2 linked regions of the Homo sapiens genome follow. The protein of the gene in region 2 interacts with the protein of the main gene of each other region in a biochemical or structural test. Each region holds a gene or a part of one and is shown on either strand. Other genes may lie near its edges.

What was found.
Region 1: the proteins of KPNA4 (region 2) and CSE1L form a complex in vitro, tested with the Homo sapiens proteins (one study listed by BioGRID).

What each region holds. Positions count from the first base shown.
Region 1 is NC_000020.11:49,091,104-49,094,935, forward strand, and holds part of CSE1L (exportin-2), read left to right. Parts: intron 1-942; coding exon 943-1,024; intron 1,025-3,036; coding exon 3,037-3,183; intron 3,184-3,628; coding exon 3,629-3,832. UniProt on the Homo sapiens protein: Export receptor for importin-alpha. Mediates importin-alpha re-export from the nucleus to the cytoplasm after import substrates (cargos) have been released into the nucleoplasm.
Region 2 is NC_000003.12:160,558,972-160,562,571, reverse strand, and holds part of KPNA4 (importin subunit alpha-3), read left to right. Parts: intron 1-3,600. UniProt on the Homo sapiens protein: Functions in nuclear protein import as an adapter protein for nuclear receptor KPNB1. Binds specifically and directly to substrates containing either a simple or bipartite NLS motif.

The DNA of each region.
Region 1 (3,832 bases), on a different chromosome or scaffold from region 2:
TTTTTTATCCGTTTTAAACTTTATGCAAAAAATACTTGGCCACGTGTGGAGGTTCATGCCTGTAATCGCAGCACTTTGGGTGGCCAAGGGAGGCCGATCGCTTGAGCTCAGGAGTTCAAGACCAGCCTGGGCAACATGGCGAAACCCTGTCCCTACGAAAAGTACAACAAAATTAGCCAGGCATGGTGGCATGTGCCTGTAGTCGCAGCTGCTTGGGAGGCTGAAGTAGGAGCATCACCTAAGTCCCAGAGGTTGAGGCTGCAGTGAGCCAAGATTACACCCACTGCACTCCATCCTAGGTGACAGAGTGAGACCCTGTCTCAAAAAAAAAAAAGAAAATATTGTAAGGGCCTGGTGCAGTGGCTCTCATCTGTAATCCCAGCACTTTGGGAGGTGAAAGTGGGAGTATTCCTTGAGTCCAGGAGTTAACGACCAGCCTGGGCAACATGGTAAGACCCTGTCTCTACAAAACAGCCAAGCATGGTGGTGTGTGCCTGTAGCCCCAGCTACTCAGGAGGCTGAGGTGGGAGGATCACTTGACCCTGGGAAGTTAAGGCTGCGTGAGCTGTGATCACGCTCCTGCACCCAGCCTAGGTGATAGAGTGAAACCTTCTCACAAGAAAAAAGAAAATATTTTAAGATGTTTGTGTTCTCCAAACATTAAGTTAGTGTTAGTCATATTGTGTTCCAGAGGTTGGTTTATGGTTGGATACCAAAACATTTTTTCAGTAGAGAGAATATTATAAGGAAATATAAATCAAAGAGAGACAGCATGTAAAGGTCTATGACAGAAAGACAAGTTTTCTATTTACTAGAAGGCAGGTATTGATGCCACAGCCTTTGGATGTTAATGATTAAGCATAGGTTTATTTTGCAGACTTATCAGTTACCAGTTTAGTGCGTGAGTTCTCTATGCTGATATTCTGCATCTTCTTTCAACAGGTTTTTTAGTCTTTATTAATTTGTATTGCATAAAATATGGGGCACTAGCACTACAAGAAATATTTGATGGTATACAACCAAAGTAAGTTTGTTTTTATTATTTTTTAAAGGAAGAAAATGTTTTGACTTTTTTTTTAGTACAAATCAGTATCTCTGTCTTATAGATGATGATGTGGTTCTTGGTATGGAGATAGTGTCTATGGTTTTCAAAATATTCTTAGGTATTGGGAGTAAAGAAAAAGTAATCCTGGCCCAGCATGGTGGCTCACGCCCGTAATCCCACACTCTGAGAGGCTGAGGAGGGCGGATTTAGCTCAGGAGTTTGAGACCAGCCTGGGCAATATAGTGAGACTCCATCTCAAAAAAAGAAAAAACACCCTGGAATCATTGTTCTAATCCTCTAGATTAGAGGACCATCTACTCTACACACTGGCATTCTCCACAGCCAGTGTTCTATATTATGTTAAATGGTCAGTGTTGTCTCCAGGAGCCTGCCTTATTAAAACTAACAGCAGAAAACACCACATGTTCTCACTCATAGGTGGGAATTGAACAATGAGAACACTTGGACACAGGGCGGGGAACATCACACTCTGGGGCCTGTCGTGGGATGGGGGGCAGGGGAAGGGAGGGCAGAGGGAGGGATAGCATTAGCAGAAATACCTAATGTAAATGACGAGTTAATGGGTGCAGTAAACCAACTTGGCACATGTATACATATGTAACAAACCTGCACGTTGTGCACATGTACCCTAGAACTTAAAGTATAATTAAAAAAAAAAACCAGAATTTTCCTTCCCCCTTTTTTAAAAAATCGTGCTAATCCATATCGTTCCAATTTTAGTATATGTGCTGCTAATGCAAACACAGCAGAATTTTTCAAATGAGAAATACTTAGGACCAATAAATTAACTTTGTTTTTGACTTATCTGGTATATATGCAAAGAATGTATTTAGGTGGCATTTCCCATTAGTAGGGAATAAAACAATTATAACGATAAGATAAAGAACAACTCTTAGGGAAAATTTCTTCGGGGACAGTTAGATCCCTGTACCTCAGTTATGTCTCAAAAATTCTACATTGACTAAAAAATGAATTACTCTGGAAAGGAGACCAGAAAACATGGCTTCCGGCAGTAGGGGATTTTGAGGAAATCTCATGCACTGCTAGTGGGAGCCTGAATTAGCCTGATCTTTCTAGAGAGCAAAATGTATGCACTTTTTATCCAGAGCATTAGAATTGCCATACCCTTTGAGCCATATTTCCACTTCAAAGAATTGGTTCTATTAACGCATAAACTGAGGATTTTGCATCATTTAGAATTACGGAAAACTTCACTTCTAGCATGTTTGCAACAACATAGAATGATTGGCCGAATTATTTTAAATAGCCATTAGCATTTATGTACCTGCAGGTATGTAAGCAAAGACAGTTGGGAAGCTTATAACCCAAAAATGTTAAAACTAGTTGTTTCTGGGTGGTGGGATGATTCCTTTTTTCCCTCCTTGCTCCTCTCTCTTTTTTTTTTTTTTTTCTTTTTTTTTTTTGAGACTGGCCAGGTGTAATTTTTAAAGAAAAAAGCAGAGAGGGCCAGGAATGGTGGCTCACGCCTGTAATCCTAGCACTTTGGGAGGCTGAGGCAGGTGGATCACCTGAGGTCAGGAGTTCGAGATCAGCCTGGCCAACACAATGAAACCCCATCTCTACTAAAAATACAAAAATTTGCCGGGCGTGGTGGTGGGCACCTGTAATCCCACCTACTCAGGGGGCTGAGGCAGGCAAATTGCTTGAACCCAGGAGGTGGAGGTTGTAGTGAGCTGAGATCACACCGTTCCACTCCAGCCTGGGCAACAAGAGCGAAACTCCGTCTCAAAAAAAAAAAGAAAAGAAAAAGATTATGGCATTTGGCTACAGGGTAGAGGTGTGATGGGGTTTTTTTATGTTTTGACTTTCAGTCTCTTCAGATGATCAAAAACAGCAGTCTTGTTATTTAGTAATTTATCATATTCATAAGAAGTAACTAACATCTAAGCATTTTACTATTTCATTATAGTGATAATCTAATATTAAGTTGATTTATTTTGCTTTAATAGAATGTTTGGAATGGTTTTGGAAAAAATTATTATTCCTGAAATTCAGAAGGTATCTGGAAATGTAGAGAAAAAGATCTGTGCGGTTGGCATAACCAAATTACTAACAGAATGTCCCCCAATGATGGACACTGAGTATACCAAACTGTGGTAAGTACTTCATTTTAATATTTTTGTAAGTTACAGCTTCCTTCCCATATGACTGCAAAATTAACAAAGCTTATTCTCTTGGGGGCCAAGAGAATCTTGGTCTGATCTCAGCTTCTCCACAATCAGATCCAAGACATGATTTCTGGATCCTTCTGGGCTTAGAATGATCTTGTTTCCTGCTTCTTTTTCAGGGGGATTCATGGACCCCTTTAAGAGTCTGATCTAGGTGATCTCTAAGACAATTTTATGACAGAAGCCCAACTAAACTGACTTATCTTTAAGGGGAAGAACTGAATAAGCCAAGAAAAGAACCATCTTAATTTCAAAGGTCCCCTTTTATTCTTGAGACTATGAGTCTGTAATTTTGTGTCTCTGAGCAATTGCTGGTTTTAAGTCTTCCGAGTATTTTCTTGACCTTTTTATCTCTTGCTTTCTTCCAATCCAGGACTCCATTATTACAGTCTTTGATTGGTCTTTTTGAGTTACCCGAAGATGATACCATTCCTGATGAGGAACATTTTATTGACATAGAAGATACACCAGGATATCAGACTGCCTTCTCACAGTTGGCATTTGCTGGGAAAAAAGAGCATGATCCTGTAGGTCAAATGGTGAATAACCCCAAAATTCACCTGGCACAGTCACTTCA
Region 2 (3,600 bases):
CTTTGTGTATTTGTTACTTACATATCTGGTCTATCTCTCTAAGCACTTATCAGCCTACTTACATATATGCTGTATCTCTCTAAACACTTAATCACCCTTTAGATATGGTTACTACATTGTGTTACATAATGTCTGTAGAATACAGCAAATTCTGAGAAAATAATTGCTTTTTGATTTGGATCTTATGATGACATCTATTTCATGGGAAGTCTTCAGAAAGAAGTATGGACCAGTGAATTTAACTTAATCCAGTATATCCAAAATACCATGCAACATCTAATTTGTGTAAAATAATTGAGACGTTTCATATTATTCCTTTCATACGTTCAAAATCCAGTTTGTATTTTACGGTTATGGCATACCTCCACTTGGACTAGCTGCATTTCAAGTGCTTAATAGCCACATGTGGTTAGTGGCTACCTTATTGGAACAGCCCATGTACAGAGTATAGCATTTAGGGAGAGGTAATTGTAGCATATTATGATCTAACAGTTTATTTGATTAGAAATGATGAAGAATACAGAGTCCTAGAGTTTAGTTTAATTTGATCTCTAACTTTGTGTATGACCTTGGGGAAAATCGCTTAGTCTTATGGTTCTTTCATCTGTAAAACTAGAGGTACTTGACATCTGCTTCATGAGTGTTGTGAAGATTAATAGGTAATGTTAGGAAGATGCCTGGCAATTCTCTGAGCGTTTTATCACCTTCAGCTTTTCTTTTTGGGGGAGGGAAGGGATTTAACAAGATTCAGTATAATTGATTCTCTTACTCCCTTATTTTCAGTGGCTGTTTTTTCTCTCTGCTTGTATAACTTGTTACATTGAACAAGTAATAGGGAAAGGTTTTAATACAGAGACATGTAGCTGCTCATTGAAGGGCAGTTTAGGCACACCAAATTAGTGATCCTTTTAAAGTTGTAATTTCTGAGTGTTAGAGTTGAAAGTTATTCATAGATTTCAATCTGATATTTGTTCCTACCTCTCTCTACCATTCTGACTCCTCTAAAATGTGGTCATGTTAAGTTTCTTGAAACACAAACGCACCAAAGAAGGCATATGTTCAGTATCCATTTAAAATAATTATCAGGAACTATCAGATGATATTCACCATGGCGTGGCTGCTTCTTACAGTGTTGTAGAAGATCCCCAGTCTTAGTTTGAGAATAGTAACCATAGAAAAGAGGGTATATACAGTGCAACACAGGAAATGGGTAGTGACCAAACTTGAAATAAAAAACTTGTCAGGATAAAGTAAATTAAGCTCATATAATTTATGTTTTTTAAAGTAGAGGGGAATTTTCTTGTAGATTTCCTAATAAACCTGCATACTTTTTATGAAAGTTCTGAGTGTCTAGGTTCAAATAGAGCATAAAATATAACTAGATCTTTTAAAAACACAACTTTAAGAAAACAACTTACCCTAAATATAAAAGAATATTAAAATGCTACATAATTAGAAACTTGTGATTATCCACACAAACATAAAATATGAAGTCAGCTTGAACTTTAAAAAAAGGTGCTTGGTTGGCAAGAGTTTAATAAATTGATCAGCTGTTTTGTTGTTTTGAAAGAGCCTCAGTGATTTGTTAAAGTGTACAGAGTGAAAAGCATTGTTAAGGTATTAAGTCTTGTTAACTTTTAGAGACTGATCTCTCTCACCACAAATCTTGGAACATATTTACTATACTTAAAATAACTACTGTCTAATTTTTCACATAATAGTCCAAGCATGTGACAATATGAAATATCTGATAGAAATATAGTTAGGAATTAAATGACTGTTTCTGTACTTCTTGCCAACTTTCCTGGTTTACAAGGTAGCCAGTTTGAGAATTGCTTCATTGATAGTTTTCCTGGAGATACCAAGATGCCCTTATTTTTCGTAGTCACTAAGTATGTCAAATGAATGTACAAGATTGGGAAGAATTGTAGGAGTGATTTAGATTTCAAAGAATGAAGCTACTTTAGAAAAAAAAATGCAAAGGTAGTTTTTAAACATTGATTTCTAATACCTGATAGTGGTTGTGGGTCCTTAAAATATTTTTAAATGTTTTCTGGAGTAGCATTCATCTATTTGAGGCCTATAATGATGAATGAAACAAGAGCATGTCATCAGATTTAACCTTGATCTCTGATTTTGGTACTTACTCGCTGATTTAGTTTTGGAACAGAAAAGAGGAATATGACTGAAGGGAACTTTCTGAGCACCTACTGTATATGCTTTTAACTGTATTCACATTTCTCTCAATCTTATACATATTGAATTTATTTTAAAGAAGAAATTTTAAAGAAGAAACTCTTGTGCTTTTGATTTAATAAGATAACATTTAAGGGAATGATTTTAATTCAGGTGTGTCAGAGTCTGTTCTTTTTGTACTTTACCATATTTCCTCCATTTGACTTCTTTCAGCCTTAATGCCAGTCTCAAATTTGATGAAAAGGTTCTATGTGAAAGCACTGAGCATAGTCCACGGGGTATAATAGGTATTCAGTAAATGTTTTCTTTTTTTCTCAGAGGGTTTTTGGAAATTGTGGGTCACTTGTAGACTTTCAAACACTAGAAAACACAGTTTGTTTTCTGTGCTTTTCATTTAGGTTTGGTAAAAGACAGGGTTGGAGTTCTTCCTTTTTCTGTGGTTAATATGAGAACTGTATATTGATATCTATAAAATAAGGACATTTTTCAAAACCAAAAATACATAATGAGAAGAATGGCCATGTTGAACCTTTTTTTCGGGTCTTAATGTTTGGCTTAAGACAGCTGAATTCTCATCTGTTTCTGCATTCAGTCTTTTGTGATACACTGTTTTGGTCGAAGTGTGTGAAGAATGTCCACCTTCACACAGACAGACAGTTGAAAAAGGAAAGTATGTTATGTTTTCATAGGCTTTTCAGGATAATTATGGAGATTAAGTGATACTACACCGTAATTCTGCAAGAGGTAGTTTCTTAAAGATAGTTGCAATGTAGAATCTGAAGCCACATGAGTGAACTTTTCTTACACTGTTACATTAAAATCTATTGGTCTGTCTTGCACTTCAGATGTAACATTTACCCATCTTTTACTGATGCTTTTTGTAATACCATGCATTGGATTATTTGGAAAACATTATGTCACTGAGTTATGCACGTCTTCCAAATGCTAACATATTTTATTCAATAAAAAATTCATGATTGTTAACCACACAATTCAGAAAAATCTTAAGTATTGAGAATCTGTCAGGTTCACAGAAGTGGATACAAGTTTTCTAAAATTCTAACTTTCTCTGGGAAGCTCAATTTTTTTTTCTTTTTTTACCATGCCTCTGGGACAAGTTCAGAGGAAGCTGAAATTTTATCATTAGCAATAAATGCTATAAATGGTTATCGTTGAAGCCATAGACTCACTTTGCTCATTTTTGTGAAAACATCTTCCAACCATTAAGTCTGAATAACCATAATTTGTCTGTCAGTCGTTTTTTCAAGTAAAAATAGTGTTCCATGAAAAAAGTGGCTAGGTCAGTTCACAACTCAGTTGCACAAGTACTTTTTCCTTGAGACAGTCGTCCTTAAGTAGAAGTTGGTATGCAGCAGAAGTGGCTTATATGTAATCTTCATTTTT